Linked DNA regions of Homo sapiens. The protein of the gene in region 1 interacts with the protein of each later gene in a pairwise test. Each region holds a gene or a part of one and is shown in the gene's direction. Other genes may lie near its edges. The genes, in order: CORO1A and FSD2.

Evidence for each region.
Region 2: the proteins of CORO1A (region 1) and FSD2 interact in binary tests that used the Homo sapiens proteins (3 or more experiments, as listed by UniProt).

The regions. Positions count from the first base shown.
Region 1 is NC_000016.10:30,174,654-30,189,945, forward strand, and holds CORO1A (coronin-1A), read left to right. Parts: upstream 1-8,948; 5' UTR 8,949-9,072; exon of another isoform or gene 9,073-9,118; intron 9,119-9,495; exon of another isoform or gene 9,496-9,766; intron 9,767-9,850; exon of another isoform or gene 9,851-10,135; intron 10,136-10,555; 5' UTR 10,556-10,556; coding exon 10,557-10,754; intron 10,755-11,944; coding exon 11,945-12,067; intron 12,068-12,162; coding exon 12,163-12,292; intron 12,293-12,385; coding exon 12,386-12,570; intron 12,571-12,728; coding exon 12,729-12,848; intron 12,849-13,071; coding exon 13,072-13,176; intron 13,177-13,288; coding exon 13,289-13,434; intron 13,435-13,538; coding exon 13,539-13,596; intron 13,597-13,707; coding exon 13,708-13,923; intron 13,924-14,206; coding exon 14,207-14,311; 3' UTR 14,312-14,423; downstream 14,424-15,292. UniProt on the Homo sapiens protein: May be a crucial component of the cytoskeleton of highly motile cells, functioning both in the invagination of large pieces of plasma membrane, as well as in forming protrusions of the plasma membrane involved in cell locomotion.
Region 2 is NC_000015.10:82,747,468-82,762,094, reverse strand, and holds the end of FSD2 (fibronectin type III and SPRY domain-containing protein 2), read left to right. Parts: intron 1-2,494; coding exon 2,495-2,747; 3' UTR 2,748-6,733; downstream 6,734-14,627.

The DNA.
Region 1 (15,292 bases):
AGCCACTGCATCTGGCCAGATCTAAGAGATTTTTTTTTAAGTCTCTGTGTGTTAGAGGTAAATACTGAAGTTTTTTTTTTTTGTTTTTTTGAGATGGAGTCTCACTGTGTCGCCAGTCTGGAGTGCAGTGGCATGATCTTAGCTCACTGCAACCTCCACCTCCTGTGTTCAGGCGATTCTCCTGCCTCAGCCTCCCGAGTAGCTGAGACTACAGGTGTGCACCACCACGCCCAGCTAATTTTTCTGTTTTTAGTAGAGATGGGGTTTCACCATGTTGGCCAGGATGGTCTCAATCTCTTGACCTAGTGATCTGCCCACCTCAGCCTCCCAAAGTGCTGGGATTACAGGTGTGAGCCACTGTGCCTGGCTAATACTGAAGTATTTAAGTTGAAATGCTATGATGTCTGAGATTTGTTTTAATACATTCTGTTTTTTTTTGTTTTGTTTTGTTTTGAGACGGAGTCTCAATCTGTCGCCCAGGCTGGAGTGCAGTGGCGCAATCTCAGCTCACTGCAAGCTCTGCCTCCCGAGTTCACGCCATTCTCCTGCCTCAGCCTCCCGAGAAGCTGGGACTACAGGCGCCCACCACCTCGCCTGGCTAATTTTTTGTATTTTTAGTAGAAACAGGGTTTCACCATGTTAGCCAGGACGGTCTCGATCTCCTGACCTTGTGATCCGCCCGCCTCAGCCTCCCAAAGTGCTGGGATTACAGGCGTGAGCCACTGCGCCCGGCTGTTTTAATACACTCTAAGAAAATAATGTGAAAAAAGAAATGAATCAATGTTTGCTAATATTGCCATATTTGAATCAAATATTGCCAATATATGTTGACCATTGTCAAAGCTGGATGATGGGTACAAAAGAGTTTATTATACAATTATTCCCGTTTTCTGTATTTGAAAATGTCTACAGGCCGGGCATGGTGGCACATGCCTGTAATCCCAGCACTTTGGGAGCCTGAGGCAGGAGGATCACTTGAGGTCAGGAGTTGGAGACCAGCCTGGCCAACATGGTGAAACCCCATCACTACTACAGATACAAAATTAGCTGGGTGTGGTGGTGCATGCCTGTAATTCCAGCTACTCAGGAGGCTGAGGCAGGAGAATCATTTGAACCCAGGAGGTGAAGGTTGCAGTAAGCTGAGATTGCAGCATTGCACTCCAGACTGGGCAACAGAATGAGACTCTGTCTCAAAAAAAATTGGCTGCATGAGGTGGCTCATGCCAGTAGTCCCGGCACTTTAGGAGCCCAAGGTAGAGGATTGCTTGAGCCTAGGAGGTCGAGTCCACAGTGAGCTCTAATCGAGCCACTGCACTCCAGCCTGGGTGATAGAGTGAGACCCTGATTCAAAAAATAAAAATAAAGTTAACAAATTCTTGAAAACAGATAAAATAGGCTGGGCGCAGTGGCTCACGCCTGTAATCCTAGCATTTTGGGAGGCCAGGGCAGGCAGATCACCTGAGGTCAGGAGTTTGAGACCAGCCTGGCCAACATGGTGAAGCCCCATCTCCACTAAAAATAGAAACAAATTAGCTGGGCATGGTGGTGAACATCTGTAATCCCAGCTACTCAGGAGGCTGAGGCAGGAGAGTCGCCTCAACCTGGGAGGCAGAGGTTGGAGTGAACCAAGATTGTGCCATTGCACTCCTGCCTGAACAACAGAGTGAAACTCCATCTCAAAAATAATAATAATAATAATAATAAGAGATAAATCCTTATTACCATCAAAAGTTAAAAAAGAAGAAAGAAGGGCCGGGAGCAGTGGCTCACGCCTGTAATCCCAGCATTTTGGGAGGCCGAGGCGGACGGATCATGAGGTCAGGAGATCAAGACCATCCTGGCTAACAGGGTGAAACCCCGTCTCTACTAAAAATACAAAAAAATTAGCCGGGTATGGTGGCGAGCACCTGTAGTCCCAGCTACTTGGGAGGCTGAGGCAGGAGAATGGCGTGAACCCAGGAGGTGGAGCTTGCAGTGAGCTGAGATGGCACCACTGCACTCCAGCCTGGGCAACAGAGCGAGACTCTGTCTCAAAAAAAAAAAAGAAGAAGAAGAAGAAGGAAACCTAGTTCAAATTTTGATAAGGAAAAAAAAAAAGAGAGAATTTGTTGCTTCACATAATGGAAAGGATCTAGCTTCAAGTGCGGCTGGACCCAGGGCGGGCTCCGGGAGTCTGTCTTGTTCTCTCCCTTTCTTGACCCTACTGTCCTCTAGGTTGGTTCTGTTCTCAGGCAGTTTTGCTTCAGATGAAGGTGGGATGACTACCAGCATTTCTTAGACTTCTATCCTATAATGTGAGTCATCCAACAGAAAGTTCCAATAAAAGGCCTGCAATTAGCACTTTGGGAGGCCGAGGTGGGCGGATCACCTGAGGTCAGGAGTCCCAAACCAGCCTGACCAACATGGTGAAACCCCGTCTCTACTAAAAAAATATGGAAGTAGCCAGGCTTGGTGGTGCATGCCTGTAATCCCAGCTCCTCAGGAGGCTGAGGCAAGGAGAATCGCTTGAACCTGGAAGGTGGAAGTTGCAGTGAGCCGTGATTGCGCCATTGCACTCCAGCCTGAGCAACAAGAGCAAAACTCTGTCTCAAAAAAAAAAAAAAAAAAAAAGGCCTGGAATTAGTTCGCAGGGCACTGTTGGCCTGGCCTGGGTCTCCAGCGCTCATCACTCCTCTCTTAATCAGCTGTTCTCTAATGGCAGGAGTGTGCTAATTAGCCTCTGAATCCCCAGCACAAAGCACCCTGCCTGGGACACAAGTAGGTGGGTGGATGGATGGACAGATGGGTGAGGAAGAGGATAGAAAATAAGCAACACAGTGAGACCATGTCTCTAAAAAAATTAAAAGAGGGCTGGGTGAGGTGGCTCAGGCCTATAATCCCAGCACTTTGGGAAAAGCTGAAGCGGGAGAATTGCTTGCATTCAGGAGTTCAAGACCAACCTGGGCAATAATGCAAAACCCCCATCTCCACAAAAAATTTAAAAATTAGCTGGGTATTATGGCACTTGCCTGTAGTCCCAGTGACTCGAGAGGCTGAGGTGGGAGGATCGCTCACTTGAGCCTGGGAGGTGGAGGCTGCAGTGAGCTGTGATTGTGCCACTGCACGCCAGCCTGGGCGACAGAGTGAGACGCTGTCTCAAAAATAAATTAATTAAATTAAATAAAAAATAAGAAAAAGAGCTGGGCACGGTGGCTCACGCCTGTAATTTCAGCACTTTGGTAGGCCAAGATGAGCAGATCGCCTGAGGTCAGGAGTTTGAGACCAGCCTGGACAACATGGTGAAATCCCATGTCTACTAAAAATTCAAAAAATTTGGCCGGGCGTGGTGGCTCACGCCTGTAATCCCAGCACTTTGGGAGGCCGAGGCGGGTGGATCATGAGGTCAGGAGATCGAGACCATCTTGGCTAACACAGTGAAACCCCGTCTCTACTAAAAATACAAAAAATTAGCCGGGAGCGGTGGCAGGCTCCTGTAGTCCCAGCTACTTGAGAGGCTGAGGCAGGAGAATGGCGTGAACCCAGGAGGCGGAGCTTGCAGTGAGCCGAGATCGCGCCACTGCACTCCAGCCTGGGCGACAGAGCCAGACGCTGTCTCAAAAAAAAAAAAAAAAAAAAAAAAAAAAAAATTCAAAAAATTAGCCGGGCGTGGTGGCGGGCACCTGTAATCCCTGCTACTTGGGAGCCTGAGGCAGGAGAATCGCTTGAACCTGGGAGGTGGAGGTTGCAGTGAGCCAAGGTCGGGTTACTGCACTCCAGCCTGGGCGACAGTGTAAGACTCTGTCTCAAAAAAAATAAAAAATAAAAAATAAGAAAAATAAGAAAAGGGTCCCTTTCACATGTTTACAAAGCATGCTACCATGCTAAGGGCAGAAACTCCAAGTGGAAGTGACTTCCCAAAGACAGCATGTTACGTGTGTCATTCTAGGGCCACACTTTCTCCATGGAGAAGGCGGAGGGGGTAGGGAAAGTTGCCAGCACACTCCAGCCTGGTTCCTGGCACTGTGCCCAGCATTTATAGCTAGTTTCCATTAGTCCTCATCCTCTATAAAGTGAGGGCCACTGTGCACCTGTCCTAGATGAGGAAAACGCACCTGGCCAGGGACAGTAAGGAGATGCTGAAACCAAGGTTATCAGGGGTGCCTGACCCCACCATGCTCCACAGCCTCCTTTGGGCAAGACAGACTAGGGAAGCTCTGTGAACCTTGCTAAAGACATTGGACTTTGGCCGGGCATGGTGGTTCACGCTTGTAATCCCAGCACTTTGGGAGGCCCAGGTGGGTAGATCACCTGAGGTCAGAAGTTCAAGACCAGCCTGGCCAACATGGTGAAACCCCCTCTCTACTAAAAATACAAAAATTTGCCAGGCAAGGTGGCATGCACCGTAATCCCAGCTACTCGGGAGGCTGAGTCAGGAGAATCGCTTGAACCTAGGAGGCGCAGGTCACAGTGAGCAGAGATTGTACCACTGTACTCAAGCCTGGGTGACAGTGAGACTCTGTCTCAAAAAAAAAAAAAATAAATAAATAATAAAAATAAAAAGAGGAGTAATGATTTGATTCCAACACTTCAGTCTACCTCTACTGTAGGTATCTGGCTCCTTGGAAGGGCCTCTGGTCCTGTCTCCCTCCAGGGTAGGTGTAATCAGAACTTTTTCAGCTGCAAGTGCCAGGAATCCAACTCATACTTCTTGGCTTACGTGAAAAAGAAGTGCATTGCCTTATACAACAGGAAAGTTAAGGGTTTCAGGCACAGCTTGATCCAGACACTCAAATGATCTCAAGAATATGTCTCTTCATATCTGGCCTCTTCAGGCCTCTGTGTAGACCCATCCTAGCCAGCTTTTTGCTGTTTTTTTTGTTTTTGTTTTTTGTTTTTTTTTTTTTGAGACAGAGTCTTGCTCTGTCGTCCAGGCTGGCGTGATCTCGGGTTACCAAAACTCCCACCTCCTCAGTTCAAACTATTCTCCTGCCTCAGCTTCCCAAGCAACTGAGACTACAGGTGCACACCACCATGCCTGGCTACTTTTTATATTTTTAGTGGAGACAGGTTTTGCCATGTTGGCCAGGCTGGTCTCAAACTCCTGGCCTCAGGTGATCTGCCTGCCTCGGCCTCCCAAAGTGCTGGGATTACAGGCGTGAGCCACTGCACCTTGCTCTGACCAGCTTTTCCTGCATACCAACAAGATATCACCAGCAGTGCTGGGCTTACATCCTATCAGCTTCCTAACTCCCAGTGGAGAGAGGGCATCTTTTTCACAGCAGCTCCAAGGTGAGTCTTGGGCACAAGATGAATCAAGTGCCCATCCCTGAGCCAATGAAAACAGGTTGCTTTGGTTGGGAAGCACAGGCCATGTGAATACGCCAGGTCCCCTCCTGAACCTCATGGAGTGCCTGTGAGGAGAGGTTGGTTCCCCAAAAGAAAATCCAATAAAGAGGCGACGGGACCAGGCACGGTGGCTCATGCCTGTAATTGCACCACTTTGGGAGGCTGAGGCAGGAGGATTGCTTGAGCCCAGGAGGTCGAGACCCACCTAGGCCACATAGTGAGATCCCGTCTCTACCAACAATTTAAAAAATTAGCTAGGTGTGTTGGGCATGTGCCTCTGGTCCCAGGTACTCGGGAGGCTCTGAGGATGGATGGGAGGATCGCTTGAGCGTGGGAGGTTGAGGCTGCAGTGAGCTGTGATCGTGCCATTGCACCCCAGCCAGAGGGAGACCCTGTCTCAAAAAAAAAAAAAAAAAAAAAAAGAGAGAGGCAATGGTAAGAGCTAAACCAGCAGGAACAAGAGAGGCAAAGGTCCCCCTTTTTTTTCTTTTAATTGAAACTGGGTCTCCCTCTGTCACCCAGGCTGGAGTGCAGTGGTGCAATCATAGCTCACTGTTAGCCTGGAACTCCTGGGCTCAAGCGAACCTCCCACTTCAGCCTCCTAAGCAGCTGAGAACACAGGCACATGCCACCACAGCTGGCTAATTTCATTTTTTTTTTTTTTAAGAGATGGGGTCTTGCTATGCTGCCCACACTGGTCTCAAACTCCTAGGCTCAAGTGATTCTCGCCGCTCCTGGGCAAATGCCCTCTGACATCCCTTATAAGGACACCCTTTGAAAAGGTTGTCCCCCTCTCAAACATGGAGAGCCTTGCCAGGGCCTTCCCCACTCACTGCTGTAACTAATTCTTATGCTGCATGGACATCTGCTTCCCAGAACCTCCACCCACCAGCCTTGCCCCTGACCTTTGTGGCAGCCCCAAGGCTGCCCACCCCTTCCCCTGCTGCAGCCCACTTGGCCTCTGAAAGCAGCACTGTCTGCCTGCACCTTGCCCTCTCCAGGGCCGTCAGGCTCGCCACCTTCAGGAGCCTAGTTTTCAGGTCCTTCACCAATGCCCTCGTCCTGTGGGTGGACATGAGGCCCTCCAGAGCTGAAGGCAGTGTGTGCTTCAGTTTCTGCATCTGTAAAATGGAGATAGTATTTGCTACCCAGGGGTGCTATGAGGATTACATGAACATAGTATAGTGTCTAGAACAGTGCCCAGCACATAGTAGGCACTCAATAAAAGCCAGTTATTATTCCTGTCACTTCTGTGGGAGACGGCACATCAGAGTACCCACCTTATCTCGGTCTAGTCCCGTCCAGTCGCAGGCCTTTGAGTACAGTACAGCCCTAAGGTTTTTACAATTGAATAATCTATAAAAGATTTACAGATTTATTGTCTCATTTGAGCCTAGTAACTTTTTTGTTGTTGTTGAGATGGAGTCTTACTCTGTTGCCCAGGCTGGAGTGCAATGGCACAGTCTTGGCTCACTGCAACCTCTGCCTCCTGGGTTCAGGCGATTCTTCTGCCTCAGCCTCCCGAGTAGCTGGGACTACAGGCGCACACCACCATGCCCAGCTAATTTTTTTTTTTTTGAGACGGAGTTTCACTCTTGTTGCCCAGGCTGGAGTGCAATAGTGCCATCTCAGCTCACTGCAACCTCCGCCTCCCAGGTTCAAGCAATTCTCCTGCCTCAGCCTCCAGAGTAGTTGGGATTACAAGCATGCACCACCATGCCCGGGTAATTTTTTTTTTTTTTTTTTTTTGAGATGGAGTCTCGCTCTGTCACCCAGGCTGGAGTGTAGTGCCACGATCTCGGCTCACTGCAACCTCCGCCTCCTGGGTTCACACCATTCTCCTGCCTCAGCCTCCCAAGTAGCTGGGACTACAGGCGCCTGCCACCATGCCTGGCTAATTTTTTGTATTTTTAGTAGAGAGGGGGTTTCACCATGTTAGCCAGGATGGTCTCCATCTCCTGACCTCGTGATCTGCCCGCCTTGGCCTCCCAAAGTGCTGGGATTACAGGCGTGAGGCACTGCGCCCGGCCAGAGCCTCATAACTTTGTGAGGTGGGCAGTTCAAATCTTATTAATTCCCCATTTACCAATGACAAAATGAGGTTCAGAGAGATTAGCCCTCTTGGCCAAGATCGCACAGCCAGTCAGTGGCAGAGGTGGGACTTGAACCCGTCCCTTGCTGTTCCTTGAACTTCTCCACACGACAGGGCTGTCCCTCAGCCTACAGGTCACCCCTCTAGCCTTGCCTGTTGGCTCTTCCTAATCCTTTCAGGCCCAGCCCAGATACTTTTTAAACAAGAATGATGAGAGCTAACTTTTTTTAAAATGAGACGGTCTTGCTCTTTCACCCAGAGAAGACTGGGTGATAACAGTGGCTCAATCTTGGCTCACTGCAGCCTCTGCCTCCAGGGTTCAAGCTATTCTCATGCCTTAGCCTCCTCAGTAGCTGGGATTACAGGGGTGCATCACTACACCACGCTAATTTTTGTATTTTTAGTAGAGATGCGGTTTTACCATGTTGGCCAGGCTGGTCTCGAACTCCTGACCTCAGGTGATCCGCCAGCCTTGGCCTCCCAAAGTGCTGGGATTACAGGCGTGAGTCACTACGCATGGCTGAGAGCTAACGTTTATTAAGCACCCGCCACTTTCTAGATGAGGTCCTTACTGACTTCCTTGGGTTATTTTAGGTAATCATCCCCATACCTCTTACGTGGCAGGTATGACTGTTACAGAGGGAGAAACCGAGGCTGAGAAAGGCTAAGTAGCGGCCACACCTCACTCAGCAGGTGACAGGCTGCGGTCGCACTCATGACATAGTCTGACTCTAGAGCAGGCCTTTCCTGCCCGCTGTTGCTGCCTCCAGAAGCCTCTCTGAATCCAAGGGTGGGAACTATTCCTCCTTGCCCTCGAGCCTTCGCCAAAGCCAGGGCTTGGAGCGGCCGTGGGCTCCTCCTCCTTCCCCCAGGCTGGGCTCTTCAGGGGCGGAAACCTGCCTGGCTTGCCTGCCTTGCTCGACCCTGTAGCCCCTGGCACGAAGTAGGTGCCCGTGATGCCGGATTATTTCAGCAGGAGGGCAGGGGTGTTCCCGATGAAGCCAGGAGATCCAGGGAGGAGAAGCGACTCCCGGGGCCACCCATGCTTAGATCTCAGAGCCAGGCAAGAGCCAGGTCCCGGGGGTCCAGGAGCGCGCTCGGGGCTCCTCCTCGCCCGCGCCCCCCGCGCCCCTCGCGCCCCCCGCGCCCCCCGCGCCCCCTGCGCTCGCGTCTGCGGGGCCGGGAGGAAGGGGCGGCGCAGCCGGGCCGGGGCGGGCACCGAGGCCTGGCGGGCGGGCCTGGGGCGCTTTCGTGCCTGCCAGGGAAAGGCTGGCGAGGAGGCTGGGGGCGGACGCAGGGAGGAAAGAAGCAATGGGGTGCTCTTGCGTTTTGACATTTTAAAAAGAAGTTTAGATTCGCTTCCCGGAGCCGGGATGGCAGCCTGCGCTATGGTTGGGGACCAACGTGGTGCACGGGCAGGGGCCGGGGAGAGAGGCGGCCGCAGCGGGAGCCCGGGAGCGCAGGGCGGGCCTGGAAGAGCTCCGCCCCAAGGGGCGCGGCCACCCCGGAGGCGGGCGCACGGCTGCTTCTCATTCATTGTCTTGACAAGAGCATCTTCAGCGGGCGAGTCCCCGGCTCCTCCAGCTCCTTCCTCCTCTTCCTCCTCCTCCTCCACCTCCGGCTTTTGGGGGATCACTGTCCTCTCTCGGCAGCAGGTGAGGCTGGGCCTGGGAGGCGCGGGTGGGCCGGGGCGAGGGCCACCTGTGGGGCGGCGCGCGCGTGGGAGCCGCGGGCTGCGGGGGCGCGCGGCTGTCACCGCGACCCAGCCAGCGCCGGGGCCAGGTAGCGGGCGCAGCAGCCCGTGGGGGGACGCTGCTTGGAGTGGGGGCCGCCGGGGCCCCAGAGCGCTCTGCGGAGGCGAGGGCTAGGGACCACCGCGGCCAAGATGGAGGTGGGTGGCCGGGGGTCAGCACAGTGTCGAGGGCCCGACTCCCCACGGAATTGAGTCTCGGGGAGGGTGGGGACGAGGGCAGGGTGGGGTGAGCGGGGCAGCTGCCCTGGGCTTGGAGACAGGAAGGGGTTGAGAGCAAAACAAGAAAAGACCAAGTTCCCCTTTCCGTGGTTTCCGGGCCTGGTACCTGTGGTGGGGGAGGAGGCAGGGTGGGGCGATGGCTTCCTGTCCCCCACCTCTGGTCCGGGGCTCCCCTCTCTCCAGATACAGGCTGCTCCTCAAGACTGGGGCTCTTCACATACGCTCCTCACCGCTCTTTGGGCAGGCCGACCTAGCAGCCTCTTCGGGAGTCCTGGGGTGGCCGGGGGTGCTGGAGCCCCCAGTGAGTAGGCGAGGCTGAGGCTAGGGGCAGAGGCTCTGGGCATGGCACCCTCCAAGCGGCAGCACAGGCCCCTTCCCTGAGCAGGAAGGTGATGCGGTGGCACAAGGTCGCCCCTGGAGTTCCTTGCTCCCCACCCAGACACTGGGGGAAACCATCCTACCTGGACCTCAGAGCAGTCGGAGTGGCCTCTCCCTTCCTGTGTGCAGTTTACATGGGGGTGGAGATGGCTCTTAAGGGCACCTGCTTTTCTGAGCGGAGGCGAGAGGCAGAGGTATGGGGAGGAGGAGATACCTGGACCTGAGCCAGAGACCTGCTGGGGAAGCTATCCTGCCGCCTCACTCCCCTCAGGCAGCCCCCACGCCACTTCCTCCTGTGTCCAGCCCCATGCCAGCAGGCGAGGGAGGCCAGCTCCTGTCCCTGCCTTTAGGAAGCGCTGTGTGGGTGTGAGGGAGGTGGGCTCTGGACACGGTAACTAAGAGAGAACCCACCCTCGGAGCCATCTGGGCTGATGACGCCTGAGTCTGAACCATTAGGAAGGACGGGCTCTGCATCCATCAGCCAGTCAGTCAACAAACATGCAGTGGGGCAACACCACGCCAGGCTCTGTTGCAGAGGCTGAGGGTACAGATTGAGAGGGTGGCTCAGAGTGGCCTGGGGCCAGGGAGAAGGGGGCTTGCAGGTTAGAGGGAAGGAGAGGCTGGGGAAGGCAAGCAGGCATCAGCCACAGAGGGAAGAATAGGGAGCCCCTGGAGATGATGCTGGGACCTTAAAAGCCAGACTGAGGGGTGTCCTGGGGGAGGTGGGGACCACTGGAAGATCAGAGTTGACCTGAAGGGAGAAATGCTCTTATGCTGTGTGCCCCCAGAATGAGCCGGCAGGTGGTCCGCTCCAGCAAGTTCCGCCACGTGTTTGGACAGCCGGCCAAGGCCGACCAGTGCTATGAAGATGTGCGCGTCTCACAGACCACCTGGGACAGTGGCTTCTGTGCTGTCAACCCTAAGTTTGTGGCCCTGATCTGTGAGGCCAGCGGGGGAGGGGCCTTCCTGGTGCTGCCCCTGGGCAAGGTGAGCCCCTGGGGCCCTGGGGGGAGCAGCTCCTCCACCGGACCCATGGCTCTGTGCAGGTCCTGATTAGGTGACGGTCACCAGGCCTTCCAGGGCCTGTGTTGCCATCTGGAAAACTGAGCTGGGCCCCATGAGCCTTACACTTCCTCCAGCTCCTCTGTGCTGTGGCTGTGTGGAAACTGACGCTCAGAAGGAGCCAACACAAGATGGGTCACACCAGTGACCAGGACTACAGACAGTCCTGCAGACCCATGATCAGCCCTCCTGAGCCTCAGCCTGGGGCTTTCTCCCCATGGAAACACAGAGGGGGTTGGGATGGGGTCTGGGGGCCCTGGCAGCGTTCTCAGGGTTGGGAGGGACTCTGGCTCTGGGCCTGTCTGAGGACCTAGCAACTCTGTCCCCCAGCTCGCAGGCAGGGATGATGCAAGAGGTGCTCTCCCCCACCCGCAGCCCTGCCCTCCCCTGGAGCCTGCTGCCCCCTCCGCTGGCTGGCTGCTGCCCCGCACCCCCAGCACACTCCTGTGCTCTTTGGGGGGTAAGACAGGAAGGGGAGATGGGCCCCAAGTTGTTACCTTAAAAGGGCTGATGGAAGCAAAGAGAAGAGGAAGTGGTTGTCGGGGTGAGAGCTGGGCCCGCGCCCCACATGGCTGTCACACAGGAAGCCCTGCTGAAGCAGCTGTCCCCGGAAGAAGCCATTTCCAAACCTCTGCTCCTGCCTGGGGCCAGTTGGGACAGGCTCCCTGGCCCCTCTCCTTTTGGGAGGACCCACCCCTGCAGCCCCACCACTCACACTCGCTCTCTGGGGAGCTGCCTCCACCCCCCCAGCCCCCATACACCTGTCCTGGCTCCAGGGCCAGTTGTGCCCATGGAAGCCTCACTCGGGGAAGCTGGGGTGGGGGTGCCAACCCTAAGGGCAGAGACAGACTGAGACAGAGACCGGCGGGAACTCTGCCAGGGTCTTGCACGGCCCCCAACCTCTGCCATGCGTGGCCAGCCCTCCTGGGGTTTGCCCAGGCCATTTTGGGACTGGAACAAGAGAAGAACAACCCGCCCCCGTCCCCACCCCAGGCCCTGGTCCAGCTCCCAGGGACACCACAGCTTTCCTCTCTGGGCCTCTCTGAAGGAGGTGTGGGGAGGTTGGATTGGGTTTGGGAGGCAAAAGCACCTCCAAGGCCCTGCTGTGCCTTTAGACTGGACGTGTGGACAAGAATGCGCCCACGGTCTGTGGCCACACAGCCCCTGTGCTAGACATCGCCTGGTGCCCGCACAATGACAACGTCATTGCCAGTGGCTCCGAGGACTGCACAGTCATGGTGAGTGGTGGTGGGGACCCAGGGGCTGGGAGAGGGGCTCTAGGATGGGATCTGACATTTGGAGTCCTGAAGACTCACTGGCCCCTCCTCTGCAGGTGTGGGAGATCCCAGATGGGGGCCTGATGCTGCCCCTGCGGGAGCCCGTCGTCACCCTGGAGGGCCACACCAAGCGTGTGGGCATTGTGGCCTGGCACACCACAGCCCAGAACGTGCTGCTCAGTGCAGGTGCTGCGGGAGGAGGGGCTTGGGGGTGGCTCGTGGCCTGCAGTGGATGAGGGCAGGAGGCTCATGGCTTCTGACACTGTGGGGAACGTGCAGGTTGTGACAACGTGATCATGGTGTGGGACGTGGGCACTGGGGCGGCCATGCTGACACTGGGCCCAGAGGTGCACCCAGACACGATCTACAGTGTGGACTGGAGCCGAGATGGAGGCCTCATTTGTACCTCCTGCCGTGACAAGCGCGTGCGCATCATCGAGCCCCGCAAAGGCACTGTCGTAGCTGTGAGTCGCCATCTACCCTGACCTTTGACCCTACAGCCTTTATCCTTCTTATCCACCATCAGCCAGGCCCTTGGATGCTGCCCTCCCTCGCCTCCACCTGGGACTGGCCCCGTAGGGTATGTACGGGTGCCTGACCTACCACCTCCCTTTCCTTGCAGGAGAAGGACCGTCCCCACGAGGGGACCCGGCCCGTGCGTGCAGTGTTCGTGTCGGAGGGGAAGATCCTGACCACGGGCTTCAGCCGCATGAGTGAGCGGCAGGTGGCGCTGTGGGACACAGTGAGTGCTGGGGCAGGAAGCCGAGGGCCCCCAGGCTGGGAACCAAGACTGGAGGTTTCGTCCCTGCTCTGCCACTCACCTGGCAGGATGGCCATGGGCCTCAGTTTACCCAGGCGTGAGATGGTTGTTCCCACTGGTTGGTCGGGAGGGCCCTCACAGGTCACTGCCCAGGGAAGACCACCATCCCAGGGCCTGGGATGTTACCTCTCACCTGTGTCTACAGAAGCACCTGGAGGAGCCGCTGTCCCTGCAGGAGCTGGACACCAGCAGCGGTGTCCTGCTGCCCTTCTTTGACCCTGACACCAACATCGTCTACCTCTGTGGCAAGGTGGCCTCGTCGGGCGGGGTGGGGGTGGGAGGTGGGCAGGATGGGCCTGGAGAGGGCCAGGGCAGTGGGCATCCGCTGGTATTGACCCTCCCTCCACACCTGCCACCTACAGGGTGACAGCTCAATCCGGTACTTTGAGATCACTTCCGAGGCCCCTTTCCTGCACTATCTCTCCATGTTCAGTTCCAAGGAGTCCCAGCGGGGCATGGGCTACATGCCCAAACGTGGCCTGGAGGTGAACAAGTGTGAGATCGCCAGGTGACTGACCCCCGGCCCTGACCGCAGCATGCTCCTTGGGCAGTGGGCAGTCCCAAGCCCACCCAACCAGACTGTGGGCCCCGCTCACCTTCCCCTTCCCACAGGTTCTACAAGCTGCACGAGCGGAGGTGTGAGCCCATTGCCATGACAGTGCCTCGAAAGGTGATGCTCCCCCGCCCCACCCTGGGCTCCAGGCTGGGCACTGACTTTGCGGTCTTGTGGGGGGTGTCCTGGCATAAGCGCTTTCCTCACTATCCCTGGCCTTGCCCACAGTCGGACCTGTTCCAGGAGGACCTGTACCCACCCACCGCAGGGCCCGACCCTGCCCTCACGGCTGAGGAGTGGCTGGGGGGTCGGGATGCTGGGCCCCTCCTCATCTCCCTCAAGGATGGCTACGTACCCCCAAAGAGCCGGGAGCTGAGGGTCAACCGGGGCCTGGACACCGGGCGCAGGAGGGCAGCACCAGAGGCCAGTGGCACTCCCAGCTCGGTGAGAGGGCTGGGAAGCCAGGGAATAAAACTGGGAGGGTGGGGTGGGGCTGGTGTTTGGGGCACCTCAAACTCACAACATTGGGAATCTTTGTGGGTCCGGGAATGGTAATCCTGAGGCCTCAGAACACAGGTTTCAGATTGATAGGCCTGCAGGTCTCCAGGCAGCAACCAGCTGAGCGACTAAAGGGCCCAAGGCCAGGGCTCTAGGGATGGGGCTCAGCAGAGGCTGGGGTAAGGGGAGCCAGGGAGGAGCTGGGCCTAATGCAGCACCGGGTCCCCAGGATGCCGTGTCTCGGCTGGAGGAGGAGATGCGGAAGCTCCAGGCCACGGTGCAGGAGCTCCAGAAGCGCTTGGACAGGCTGGAGGAGACAGTCCAGGCCAAGTAGAGCCCCGCAGGGCCTCCAGCAGGGTCAGCCATTCACACCCATCCACTCACCTCCCATTCCCAGCCACATGGCAGAGAAAAAAATCATAATAAAATGGCTTTATTTTCTGGTACCTCCCAGACTCTGATGACTGGTCCCCTAGACACGCAGTTTGCTGAACCAACCAGCCCTAGAGCTTCCCCTCCACCGCGCTGAGGGGACTGACCCATGGCAGGGGATGTGGGATGCCCCCTGACTTACTACATCACAGGAACAGGGCCTTCGTGGGTAGAAACCAGCCATGCTGATGTGGGCCAGGAGGCTGCTCTCCGTTTCCGAGCTCCTTCTCAGAGCTGACACAGCTGAACTATTTAAGGCCCTAGCTTAGAACCTCAATAATTCCCAAATTTACCAAAAATCTGCCTTTCCTAGTCAACCAAAACATCACGTTGCACGTGACTCTGCTGGCACTGTTGCTTGTGAGGAAATGAACCAACCATCACTTACAGGGTAGGCATCTTTTAAACTGCAGGTCCAAAGATAAAAATAACGAGGGAGGCTGGGCATGGGGACTCACGTCTATAATCCCAGCACTGTGGGAGGCTGAGGCGGCAGGATCATTTGAGCCCAGGAGTTTGAGACCTGCCTGAGCAACACGGCGAGATACCGTCTCTACGAAAAATAAAATAAAAAATTAGCCAGGCATGGTGGTGGGCACCTATAGTTCCAGCTACTCAGGAGGCTGAGGCAGGAGGATCCCTTGAGCCCAGGAGGTCGAGGCTGCAATGAGCCATTGCACCACTGCACTGCAGCCTGGGTGACAGAGCAAGACACTGTCTCTAAAAAATATAAATAGGCCGGGTGTGGCAGCTCACGCCTGTAATCCCAGCACTTTAGGAGGCCGAGGTGGGTGAATCACCTGAGGTCAGAAGTTCGAGACCAGCCTGGCCAACATGGTGAAACCCCATCTCTACTAAAAATACAAAAATTAGCTGGGCATGG
Region 2 (14,627 bases), on another chromosome or scaffold:
AAAATCTGGATACTCACAATTAAAATTTGCTTTTGAAAGATTACAGCAAGACCTTTTCACTAGCAATAATTAAGACACACGTTATATTTTACAAATATTTTAAGATATTTCAGGAGTTGCTGCCAGCCACTTTCCCTAAAGTCCAAGTAAGAGGAGAAAGAGCAGCTTTTCTTCAACTAAAAATAGCTAAAATTTATGGAGAATTATGTGCCAAGTACTCTTACATGCATTATCTCATTTACTTCTCACAATTGTGTTATCTCATTTGAAAAATCAGAATGCTGGGTGCAGTGGTGTGCACCTGTAGTCCCAGCTACTCAGGAGAGTGAGGTAGGAGTATTGTTTGAGCCCTGGACTTCAAAGCCAGCTTGGGCAACATAGCAAGACCCCGTCTCTAAAAAAAAAAAAATAATAAAATAAAAAAATAAAATAAAATAAAAGAATAAAAATAAGAAGACCACACCTCACAGCAATTAGATAATCCAAACGACATGGATTTGGAACTTGGATTCAAACTCAAGCAGTCTGGTTCCAAAGATTTCATTCCTAACCACTTAAGTGATAGATTTTTCATTTCTGTTCACCTTTAGTATTAAGCCAATACAGTTTGCTTTGAAGCCCCAGTTCCATCTTTTTAAGTAAATGTGGGCAAGAGGCTTAGTAGTTATGGCTAATTCTGGTTTGCTCCTGCTGCTGGGCACTCTGTCTTTACACATGGAGTAGTTCCATATAGTGGGAAAAAAAGTCTCACGAAGCCCAGGCCAATGAATACACTTTCAGACTTAGAAGGCCATGGTTACAACCTTCCTTCACCTCAAAAACTGAAAAACAAGACCCCACACTGCTTTCCTATCACACCTTGTAAAATGGGGCCTCTGACCCTCCTTGATTTGATGAATCCTATTAATGTTCATCCAATGCTCTCTGCCCATGATCCTCTATCATGGTTATTTACACATTATGTGTCATGCCCAAGCATAAGTGGGAAAACCAACTTCCCCTCCGATAACAGATGAAGACTCTAATGAAATCTACTAAACCTCACACCCAGTTTGGGGAATCCAAGAATTACTATACACTGAGGCAGATACTTTATTTGGGGATTCTGCCTGAAGTAAGACTAAAGAGCAAAGTCTCTTCTTTAGAAAGGCAAGAACAAGGGGCAGAGTAAAACTAAGGGAGCATAAAGAAAGCCTAGAAGTCCACGTGTAGAGGGAAGAATAAAGGGGGTAAGAAGACACAATAGAAGAGGGGTGGAAACAGAAGAATGACAAAAGAAGGGCAAAAGCTACAGTCCAAGTGCTAGAGCCAAGCCAGTTTCTTACAGATGTAGGGTGTGTGTGTGTGTGTGTGTGCGTGCACGCACACACGTGCACACACGTTACAAGTGGAGAATGAAGGTAAGGTATCCTAGGATAAGGTCTCCTAGCAGACTTGCATTTTTGGCTCATAGTATTAGACTTTATTGGTGGTAGCATAGAAAGTAGAAGAAACGACTCATAGCTTCTGGCAGCTGCTTAGTTAAATTAAGGTGAAATGGGCTAGAGACAGGCAGGCTTCCTCTGACACGTTTAGATCATATTCCAAGTGTTTATCCCAGTAGCCTAGACTAGCCTGTTGACACAAAGAGCTCTTCAAATATCTGTAGGTAGCAGGGTTAGGAAATTCCTGTGACAGGTTTTCATTTCTGCCATTTTTCAAAGTACACAGGATGTAGAGCATGGATAGTGATATAGTATTGATTGGTAACAGGCCCACTGGCTCCCCACTCAATATGAAAGTTTAAGAACTGGAGTAACTGTGCATAGAAGAGCTTATACCAAGAAGCCCATTTTATCACATGGAAAATCACAAGGTTCCCTGTTTCAAATGTCTAATCCAAATTTTAAAAACATGTTCTATTCCTATGCTAGTTTAGATGAAAGAGAGTTCAGGATGCTATAGGTAAATTTCTTAGGTTAAGAGGTTGCTAGAGAAAAAATGATGTTTGAAAAATGTTTCGGCCAGAAGCAGTGGCTCACACTTGTAATCCCAGCACTTTGGGAGGCCAAGGCAAGTGGACTGCCTGAGCTCAGGAGTTCGAGACCAGCCTGGGCAACACAGTGAAACCCTGTCTCTACTAAAAATACAAAAATTAGCCGGGCTTGGTGGTGCACGCCTGTAATCCCAGCTACTCAGGAGGCTAAGGTGGGAGAATTGCTTGAACCCAGGAGGCTGAGGTTGCAGTGAGCCGAGATTGCACCACTGCACTCCAGCCTGGGTGACAGAGCAAGACTCCATCTAAAAAAAAAAAAGAAAATGTTTCTTAGGACAAATTTTAGAAAAGAGATAGTTTAGAGAGTATAGTTTTAGAAATGGCTTGTCACCTTGGTAGTCATTTAATACTAGAAAATAGCAAAATCATAGGACTATGAATAAAATTAGTATGAAATGTTCTATAAATAGTCAATCTATAGAATTACTGAAACTTTATTATGTCAAATTTAATTTTCAGGCATAAGTATGAATTTCTGCACAACAGAACAACTCCAGATATAAGAATAACAGTTCCACCAAAGAAGATTGGCATTCTATTAGACTATGAACATTCAAAGTTGTCATTTTTCAATGTGGACCTTTCTCAGCATCTATATACATTTAGTTGTCAGCTTCACGAATTTGTGCATCCCTGTTTTTCTTTGGAAAAGCCTGGGTGTCTAAAGGTACATAATGGCATTTCAATGCCAAAACATGTCACTTTCTATTAGAACATTCTGATGTCCAGTTTCCTGTCTTCCATGCCTACCCCTCTCGCAGCTGCTCACGCCTTAGCTGGCTGAACCTGGCACTTAAGCACCATGTGCCCAGCACAATTTATGGCTCATGCTATTATCTGACTGGTGTGCTAGCGCTCATTTCACCCAACCTGGATTCTAGTCCTGTGTGCTGCTACCTGTGTGCTGCTAGGATAGTCATTACCAGGCCCAGCTGTAAAATAAAGGCTCAGACTAAACGAACTCAAAAGTCTTTGAAGCTGTCAAACTATATTCGTGTATATGCAAAATATCTTGAGTTTCCAAGACCTAGAGAGCTTGGGAGAGGACGAGGGTAGTCTTAATGGCTCCAGCAGCACCAGTACACCCATGCATTTCATGAGTCAGCCAAGAATACACTTGAGAAGGCGAGAGGCTGTCTGTAGAGAACCAGGGAAGCTGTGTGCCCTTCTCAATGTCTTCTACCCTCGTTTTCCCAATAGTGAGCAGCACTGTGGTGAGGTCCCTTCCACTGTGTACTCTGCATACAGGGTATTCCCTGTTCCACTCCTACACAGTATGCACCACTCTCTAATTTTGAAATTACCTCTATAATGCCTAATTCCATGAAGGGAGGGACAGTGCCTGTTTTGTTCATTGCTAGATCACCAAGGGCTAACACATAACAGCTGTCACCAAGTATTTGTTGAATAAATTAGTATCTTCTTCAGCCACTGCTCTTTGGCCTCTTACTGCTCTCCATGTGAAGGATGGCAGGGCTCTTTCAAAACTACAGCAAAGGACCTATGGCCAAGAAATGGGAAAAAACCTAGAATGGAGGCAGCGTGAAAGAACAGAAGGGCATCTGTGGCATATTAGCAAATGCACAACAATTTTTTAAAAGAAATTAACAGCCCACCAAAGGGCAAAGCTGAGCACGGGAAGGAAGACTGATCTCTAGCTAGGCAGCTTTCAGGCATCCTGCCTCACTGCCCCCAGGCCATTCTGTGAGCTCAATGCCCAACTCCATCAGCTACATTCCTGGTTCTCCTGTTCAAGTTTCCAGTTGCCACTTAAGCTCTGCACACACAGCATTTTCAAAGCTTGTGAGTGAAGCTGCAGAATAATTCCATTTGTGAAGCAATTACAATTCAGTATCATGTCCCACAGATGCCTCTAAACCCAGATATGCCCTAATCTCATCATTTAAGGTTTTGTGTTTAAAAAAAAAAAGTCCACTTTTCTTTTTTCTGGCGAAACCCCGTCTCTACTAAAAATACAAAAAATTAGCCGGGCATGGTGGTGGGCGCCTGTAATCCCAGCTACTCAGGAGGCTGAGGCAGGAGAATTGCTTGAACCCGGGGGCAGAGGCTGCAGTGAGCCGAGATTGTGCCACTGCACTCCAGCCTTGGCAACAAGAGCGCAACTCTGTCTCAAAAACAAACAAACAAACAAACAAAAAACCTCTGATGTTTTCCAGCACCTGCAAAGTCTGACAAACTGAAAGACTCTCATCTCCTACTAAACTCTGCCTACTCGTATAAATGGCAGCTCAGATTCCTGAATTAACAATTCACACTGACAATTTAATAACTCGTTATACACACACACACCTATCCTGCCAAGCTGGACTGTCTACTCTGAAACAAGGGACAGCAGATGTAAGCACAGAAATAGTTCCAGTTATAAACAATTAAAAGATACATATCATGTATATTTAAAAATGTTCTCGGCCGGGCGCGGTGGCTCACGCCTGTAATCCCAGCACTTTGGGGGGCCAAGGTGGATGGATCACAAGGTCAGGAGATCGAGACCATCCTGGCTAATACGGTGAAACCCCGTCTCTACTAAAAATACAAAAAAATTAGCCGGGACTGGTGGCGGGCGCCTGTAGTCCCAGCTACTCGGGAGGCTGAGGCAGGAGAATGGCGTGAACCCGGGAGGTGGAGCTTGCAGTGAGCCGAGATGGCTCACAGATCAAGACTCCATCTCAAAAAAAAAAAAAAAAAAAGTTCTCAGCTACTGAAATAGAAACTACCAAGTAAGAAACAGGATATCACAGAGAAGGCAAGTTTGAATTCAGGGTTCTAATAGGCTTTATGGAATACTACACGTTAGTATGAACACGGATAAATGGATTAAAAACTCAACACGTATAAAGTTTTAATTAAATTTTTATTTGACCAAGAAAAAACTGTCTAGAATTGCCTGACATTTAAAATCCACTTAAAGCAGATTAGCAACTTCAAGCATCACAATTATTCAGCATAAAGAGCCTTTGTTGAAACATCTTTCTCATTTATTTAGAAGAAAACATCTAGAACAGAACCAAGCAAAACTTTTGTATTTTTGTAAAAAATCTCAATTCCTGAAACTACTATAAACAATCTACTGAAACTGTATTCAGCAAGGGACAGATTTACCTCAAGGCCATGTTCACCTGCAACCTGCTGATAAGTCTGTTAAAAAACAAAGCAAAAAAAAGAGTTTTTAAAAATTAGACCACTGTAGCCACAATCCCTAACACTGGACAGTTAAAACAAAAGTTATCAAAATCTGTTCTTTTCTTAGCTTTACCTGTATCACTTTATAACTCCTGAGAAAGTCATTCACATAAGCTGTGGCCTCCCCACCTTAACAAAGGGGAAAAAGAATATGTAAAACCACCACAGAATCTTGGCGTAAACTAACATGGGTTTAGTAATACAGAGTACAGTATTCAGGATTTAAGGCACCCTTACAAGTCAGAATTGGAAAGTTGGTTTGAGACTTGCAATCTAAAATGACACTGATTTCTGATAAAATTAAATGACTTTTATTTAGAAAAGTGTGTTTAATAAATTACTTCCTGCTGGTTCAAATGACACACAATCACTTTGTATACATCCAATAAGATATTTCTGAAGTGTATACTTGGTCAAAAGTAAAAAGCAGAGCAAATGCATGGACAGTGGGGCCTTCTTCTTAATACTTCTCATCCTCCAAAATCTGTTAAAATCATCATCTTCCACAACTCACACACTGGAAGCTGTCCACAGCACAATTCACTGTGATGTGGCATTCTGTAAATAAGACTACATTGGTCTTGATGCAAGGCGGTTCAGCTACCAGACTGCACTATAAGAAAAGTCCTCTCCTCAACTTACCAAGAAAACTTCGCCAATTTCTAGTCACCTTCCTATCAATTAGTAGAGCAAGATTCTCACATGTTCACTATGTCTTTCTCCAGTTTTCTCATCTATAAGTGTACTACTCCTATTTTCTATAGGAAGACAATGGAAAGCGTGTAATTGCTGTTGGTAGATAAGTAGGTCTTGAATTTATTTTGCAAACAAGACCTGTTCTATCTACCTTTTCATTTAGGAGGCTAAAAGCAGAGTCAGCTTGATTTCAAGGACTCTATTTTCTTAGTCTCCAGAAGAACATAACCAAATCCAGCTTTTAAAACACTGTCCTTTAACAAGTCAAGATACTCAAATAAAGATCATGTATAACTTCAAGCTATAGGAGATTAACTCTGTACATATGCTTGTTTCACTGTAACCAATGGTTAATTAATCTAAATGCAAGAGAAAAGTTATTTGGAAAGAAGACCCCAGCTGGTCAGCATCTTTTCTGTCATCAGGAAGTCTCCTGGAAGGAGTATGACTATGACCTGGGCACAACAACTGCCCCTAAGTTAGTACTTATTTTAGAGTTGCTACTGAACAGGTGGTGGTTCTTGTCAAGTATATCATGTCTGACTACTTTACTGCTTGTTTTCTGCTATCACCAGTTCCAGAAAAAAAAAAAAAAAAAATTAAGCCCAACTCACTAATTGATTGCTTTTTCATTTTCCCAGACTGTGACAGAATCATGGTTTTTAGCTCTATTTTCACCTTACTCAAATCCTGGAGGAATTAAACTATCATTTATTTGAAATGTTACAAATTAGCCTGCAGTTGATTCAAACAACATGTAGTCACTCAGACATAGCAAATAAAAATGTTTTGGTATATGAACTTGGATTCTAATCTTGCTGTCTCTACTACTCTCATTCCTAAGTATAAATGTTAGGTCTCTTGCTTGAAAGGAATTTAAGAGATGCCCTTAAATTCAAACAGACTGGCTCGCAGAAAGGAATATAATCCATTCACTGGGAAAGTACACAGCCAACAAAACTGAGATTTCCCAACTATGCACTGTAACAATGCAGAAACACAGTTTTAGAGATGGCTTTACTGGGTATATACATCGCTCTTGGTAGACCCATCTATTATTCTGCCACCCAGAAAGATTCTTACCCTCCTACTTCCTTCCAAACATTCATTTAATTTAAAGGTGACAGGGACAGGGAGAGGGAAGGAAAAAACAAGAAGCACTATCCAAAAGTAAGAACAGTACTCTGGAGAAAGGTAAAAGATACTCAACACTGTTTTTTGTACCATTTACGATTTATAAATCAGCCACAGAGTCCTAGGCACCCAGAATGGACCTCCCCTTCCTTGTCTACCTAATGCCTGTATAGCTCCAAAATCACCTCTTGGAAACACTGCCTTATTCCTCCCCCTCCCAGGAGAGGTTAAGTGCCACACTCACCTCTTTTAGATTACTTCAGTGGCTATACTGCAATCATTGACTTGTGTCTGCTCCACTTGACTATAAGCAAATTGAAGGCAGGGTTTGTGCCTTCATAATCTCTGAATGATCTGAAGATGGAAATAACTGCTTTGTGCTTTCAGGGAGCTCATATACCTGCAAAGAGAAAAGAGACATCAAATTATCTTCCAAAATCAAAGGAAAAGCCTCTTTATTAGAAAGCAAAGCAGCTTTCAAATTTGTGTGTGCTTGGGGAGTAGAAGGAAACATTAAAAATATGAACCTGCTGGGCATGGTGGCTCACACCTGTAATCCCAACATTTTGGGAGGCCAAGACAGGCAGATCACCTGAGGTCAGGAGTTCGAGACCAGCCTAGCCAACATGATGAAACCCCGTCTCTACTAAAAATACAAAAATTAGCCGGGCATGGTGGTGGGCGCATGTAATCCCAGCTACTCAGGAGGCTGAGGCAGGAGAATTGCTTGAACCAGGGAGGCGGAGATTGTAGTGAGCCAAGATCACGCCATAGCACTCCAGCCTGGGCAACAAGAGTGAAAACTCCGTCTCAAAAAAAACAAACAACCCCAAAATATCAACCTTTCTTCTGTCCCAATACACCTTAAAGATCTGATACAGAGTCCCATTACTAATAGTGCTCCATGGTGACTTCTAATCTGGGAAGAGTGGGAGGGGACACAGAACAATCTGGGGATGGGAAAGATGTATGTGGTTTAGAATGCTCTTCCCAACACTGCAAGAGACCTTTGACATGTTTAATATTTATTATAGTTAGACTATACTTAAGAGAGCCCAAAGATCTTCAAAATGTATATTTTAAATGTTCTGAATCATAAATTTGGTTCATATGCCCTGGAGGCTGGTGAGTGAAAGCCGCCCCCTTGACTACTGAGTAAGCTTAACTGTCAATCCTATATTTATAGCACAACATGAGTATTTGGCTTTCCACTAGTTTCAGGATCTAAGACTTTATGGAATAAATTATATGCTATAAAGGTAATGTCAAATTAGGGACTTAGAAAGATCAAAGGTGATTCCTTTTCAAATGTCAAGTATCTTTAAAAGTCACTTTTAAAAGTGATACAAAGCAACAAAGTATTATAGCTCAGTACCTAACAACAGCCCCTCTTCCCCAAACAACTTTGGCCAAATTTATATATTATCTGTAGGGTGGAAATCAGATAAACAAACTCCTTGTTTGAAATTTCATCCTTTTCTTATAAAGTGATCGATGGCTAGAATTTTCAAACAGTGGGATCCTATGCTCCAGGGATCATTCTATGGTTCGTTATTGGAAACGTTTCTCTGAACGTGTAGAGCACTGATGAACATATAAAATTTTGACACACACAGGCACACGCAAAAGAAATACACGTTCCCAGCCCTTCAAAGAACCTCAAGCCAACTTCCCAAAAAACAACCACATATAACTATCTACCAAGGATTCCTACAGAAGGCATTTTAAACACCATTTACCTATTTATTATAAACTCAGCAGTGGGTATGTTTCTGTACAGTTATCCATTGAAAACTCATCTTAGTTCTGGAAGAGGGAGAAAAGGGAGATGGAATATAGAGGCTGTCACATGCTACTGGCTACTGGCAGGGGAAGGTGAGCAAGAGATGACTGGCCAAGAGAGTGAGAAGAGAAACTGCCTGTGGCTTGTCCATGTCCAAATCTACTAAATTGGTAGTCTTCTCTTCTTAGCCCATGATTCTCTAGCAGCTGGTCTGAACCACTGCCTGAAACCACTAAAAAAAAAAAAGAAAGAAAGAAAAAGAAAAAAAAAAAAAGCAACGAGATAAAAATAATACAAAATAGCTGGGTGCAGTTTTGTAGAGATGGGGTTTTGCCCTGTTGCCCCAGGCTGGTCTCAAACTCCTGAGCGCAAGTGATCCACCCACCTTGTCCTCCCAAAGTGCTGAGATTACAGGTGTGAACCACCACAGCTGGCTGAGAAAAGTTTAAATCTCAAGTTATATATGTGTATTTTTGTAGAGAAGTATCCTAGCTGATTAATAAACTTTCCAAGCATAGAAAAATATCACAGGCCAGGCACAGTGGCTGACGCCTGTAATTCCAACACTTCAGGAGGCCAAGGTGGGAGGATGGCTTGAGCTCAGGAGTTTGAGACCAGTCTGAGCAACACAGAGAGACACTGTCTCTACAAAACATTTTTTTTTTTAATTAGCCAGGGTGGTAGCACACACCTGTGGCCCCAGCTACTCAGGAGGCTGAGGTGGAGGAGCTCTTGAGCTCAGGAGGTCGAGGCTGCCAGTGAGCTGTGATTGCACCACTGCACTCCAGCCTGGGTGACAGTGAGGTCCTGTCTCAAAAAAAACAAGAAAAGAATTAAAAATGGACATCTGTTTGTGTTCTCTGTGCCTGGAATTATACAGCTACTGGAAATACAAGCTACTGTGCTTGTTGTTGCATTTTTAAGTTGATACTTCTGCTTATGTCACAATCACAACAGCAATCATTCCTCTACATAATCTAAAATGTCTTTGAAACATCTGCATAAAGTAGTTCTTAAAAGTTGGTTTCTGTGGGGGCTTCTGAAAGCCCTTCTGGGGGTTAGTGAAGTCAAAACTATTTTCATATGAACAAAAGCTCTTTGGAGTCTTCAATAACTGTTAAGTGGCTCTTGAGACCAACAAGTTTGAAAATTGTTTATATAGGAGCCAGGCACGGTGGCTCACACCTGTAATCCCAGCACTTTGGGAGGCCAAGGTGGGAGGATCACCTGAGGTCAGGAGTTCGAGATCAGCCTGGCCAACATGGTGAGACCCCTGTCTCTACTAAAAATACAAAAATTAGCCGAGCATGGTGGCATGGACCTGTAATCACAGCTACTCGGGAGGCTGAGGCAGGAAAATCGCTTGAACCCAGGAGAGGGAGGCTATTCATGGCTTCCCCACAATGAACATCCGGTTAAATGAGCTCCTCAGTACTTCAGATACCCCCTATGTGATGTGAACAGTTTTTCAGTATTTGCTAATGTATGGTTTTCTGGGCCTCAGGCTCACTTACTTTCTTCACAGGCTTGCCACTTTCCTACAACACATTTCCATTTCATAACATGAGAGAGATGACTGCAATAATGCACAAGACACTTAAGCCACACAAGCACCAAATGTAAGATTACTTAAAACAGCTGAGGTTTGACTGCAGTGCACTCTACAGAATCAGTTTTCTAGGGTGAGCACATAGCTTGCTCAGTGAACCCCAGGCCGCTCTGTGTAAATGTATGTAACAGGCAATGAAAGTTCCTTCTTCACATATTGTTACTACACATCTGTTGCTAAAAGGGAAATGACAGAGCGACGTGACAGACTCATCTCCATCTACAAACTATGGAAGATGTAGATGACTGACACAGTTCTAACTCCTAACACACACGGATTTTGCCTTTCATGGATTTATACTGTATGTAGATGTACATTACCACCCTTTTCACTCCTCCTTGCAACTCCCCGTCAACCTCGTAAAAAAAGACGAATTGTCTAGCAATGCAAAGAAACAGTATGGTGTACAACAAATAATTCCGGGCTAAAAATGAAGAAATCGCGCTTTCACTCTCGGCTCTGTTATTAACAAGCTGTATAACTTTCGGCCTATCTCCCCCATCATGCTTCGGTTTAAGCTAAAAGGAGGGAGATGACCAAGATGGCTTTGCTCTGCTTCTGACACCAAATGACCGCCAGCAGATTCAGGAAGCTTAAGAATTACCAACTCCGTGTGTGTGTGTTCTAAAATTAATGCAACAGGTGTTGCTGCCTCCAGCAGGCGTCACCGATTCAGAATGTCTGGGTTCTCGCAGGCCCTTATGGGACACAGAACAGCACAACCTATGTGAAAACTGTAAACTTTAGTCTGGTGAGTGCATACTTCTCCCTTCCACATTTATACTAACCTCAGCTCCGTGGGCTACGAAGCTCGTTCTTCAAATGAGGTGGAGAAATGTAAGCGCGATGAATGAGGCCCAAGTCGCTGGTGGCGCTGAACCCCCAAAAGATACACACCGCGACAGATGCAACGACCCCTCACCTCTACTCCCGTTCCCAGCCGCATCCTCTGAAACCTGATACGCCTGCCTGCCTACCAGGACGCTGCTGTCACTGGCTCTGCTCGGTGGCCAGAGACAGTACTCACTCCATGCGGCCACCCCTCCAACGTCCCACCTTCCTAGTAAATCCACTCTCTTTCCGGCGGAAAAGCCCTTCTCGTTTCCTGCGCGTGAGAGGAAGTCCCGCCCCACGCACCAGCGTGACATTACTGGAAGCGCCGAGGAGCTTCGCGCAGGCTCAGAATCGCTCAGCTGGTTGACGTTATCCAGGAGAATCGCGTTGGACTCAGGGAAGACCTGCACAGGATCCGGTTGTTGCTGGGTCCGAGGGCTGTAGGGAGTGGAGAAAGGGCCGGGAATCGTTAAGCGGGGTCTGGGAGAACGACTTGCAGATTCACATTTCCTCCGCCCGCGGATGTCCTCCGGGGAATTGAGGCTTCCTTCCTCAGCTGCCCTTGTTTCTCTCTTTGCTCCCGCTGCCCCTTGTTCTATTTCGTTTCTTACTATTTATGTAGTCTCATTGCTTGCGGTTATAATGGCCACCACTTTATTGAGCATTCACTGTACAAGCATCTCGCAGCAGGCGCTCATAAGCGTCTGGCAATTCTTGGCCACTGCTGGAAGCCCAATCATTCTTTTACCATGGAAGGGATTTGAGAGCCTACATAATCCTGTACTCTAATAGCCACATGGTACTCTTGGGGCTAGGAAGATAAAGTAGAAATTGAAATTGCTGTTGTATTAGTTTTCTGAAGCTGCCATAACCAAGTACCTCACACTGGATAGCTTAAAACAACAGATATATTTTCTCGCTTTCTGGAGTCTGGAAGTCAGAAATCAAGATGTCAGTGGGGTCTTGCTTCTTCTGAGACTCTGGATAGAATCCTTCCTGCCTCTTCCTAGCTTCTAGTGGGAGCCAGCAATCATTGGTGTACTTTCGCTTGTAGCTGCATTACTCCATTCTCTTCCTCTGTTATCAAATGGTATACTCCCTGTGTGTCTCTGTCTCTGTGTGTTTTATAAGGACACCAGTCCTGTTAGGTAAAAGGCTCACCTTACTCCAGTATGACCTGATCATGACTAATCACATCTGCAATGACACTCTTTCCAAATAAGGTCACATTTTGAGGTTCCAGGAAGGACATGAATTTTGGGGGCGACACTAACCAACCCAGTACAGCTGTTAAAGTTCTCAAGAAGTAGACAAACGAAGAGTTGACAAATAAATGTAGTACAAGTGGATTCAAATTTAGTTCAGTTTTATCTGAGTGTTCATAGACATTCGGAGTATCCCTTTAAAGGATGGGTAGGGGCCGGGCGTGGTGGCTCACGCCTGTAGTCCCAGCCCCTTGGGAGGCCGAGGTGGGCGGATCAGCTGAGGTCAGGAGTTTGAGCCCAGCCTGGCCAACATGGCGAGACTCCGCCTCTACTAAAAATACAAAAATTAGCCGGGCGTGGTGACAGGTGCCTGTAGTTCCAGCTACTTGGGAGGCTGAGGCAGGAGAATCGCTTGATCACAGGAGGTGGAGGTTGCAGTGAGCTGAGATGGCACCGTTGCACTCCAACCTGGGTGACGAGCGAAAATCCATCTCAAAAAAAAAAAAAATTAGTTACGAAAGATTCTCTCTACTTCTATCTTTTGAAAGAGACTATAGATAATTTGCATAATTTCTTCCTTAAATGTTTCATAGAATTCACCAGTTAGACCATCTGGACCTGGTACTTTCTGTTTCTGAAAGTTATCAATTATTGATTCCATTTAAAAAATAGATATAGGCCTATTCAGATTGTTTCTTCTTGTGTGAGTTTTGCCAGATCGTATCTTTCAAGAAATTGGTCCATTTCATTTAGGCTATCAAATTTATGAGCGTAGAGTTTTTTTCTTGTTTTTGTTTTTGGGCATAGAGTTTTTATCACCCTTTTAATCTTCATGGGATCTGTAGTGATGTTCCCCTCTTTCATTTCTAATATTAGTAATTTATGCCTTCTCAATTGTTTTTATAGTTAGATTACTAGAAGTGTTTTGCTTTTATTGCTCTTTTTCAAGAACAAGCTTTTTGGTTTCAATGATTTTCTCTATTTTCTGTTTTAAATTTCATTGATTTCTGCTCTAATTTTTATTATTTGTTTTCTTCTACTTACTTTGTATTTAATTAACTCTTCTTTTTCTGTTTTCCTAAGGTGAAAGCTAAAATTGATTTTAGATCTTTCATTTTTTCTAATATATGCATTCAATGGTGTTAATTTCCCTCTAATCACTGTTTTAACTGCTTCCCACAAATTTTGATTATATTTTCACTTTCATTTAATTCAAAATATTTTTAAATTTCTCTTGAAATTTCTTCTTTGGCTCATATGTAAATTAGAAGTATATTGTTTAATCTCCAAATATTTTGGGATTTCTAGGTTATTTTTCCATTATTGATTTCTAGTTAAATTCCATTGTTGTCTGAGAGCAGGCATTGTATAATTTCTATTCTCCTAAGTGGGTTAAAGTGTATTTTATGGCCCAAAATGTAGTCTCTCCTAGTGAATGTTCCCTATGAGCTTAAGAAAAATGTGTATTTTGCTGTTGTTAAATGAAGTCGTCTACAGATGTCAATATTATTCAGTTGATTGATGGTGTTGTTGAGTTCAACTGTGTCTTTACTGATTTTCTTTGTGCTGGATCTGTTTATTTCTGATAGCAATATGTTGAAATCTCCAACTATGACAATGGATTCATCTGTTTTTCTTTGCAGTTCTATCAGTTTTTACCTCACATATTTTGATATTATGTTGCTAGTCACATACACTTTAAGGACTGTTATGTCTTCTTGGAGAAATAACTTCTTAATCATTACATAATGCTTCTCTTTATCCCTGATAACTCTTTTTTTTTTTTTTTTTGACAGTGTCTTACTCTATTGCTCAGGCTGGAATGCAGTGGTGCAATCACAGCTCATGGCTCATTACAGCCTTGACTTCTGGGGTCTGGTGATCCCCCTACCTCAGCCTCCCGAGTAGCTGGCACCACAGGCATGCGCCACCATGCTCGGCTAATTTTTGTATTTTTGTTAGAGATGGGGTTTTACCATGTTGCCCAGGCTGGTCTTGAACTCCTGAGCTCAAGTGACTCACCTGCCTTGTCTTCCCAAAGTGCTGAGATTACAGGCCTGACCCACTGTGGCCGGCCTATCCCTGATAACTTTTCCTTCATTGAATTCTGCTCTGTCTGAAATTAATATA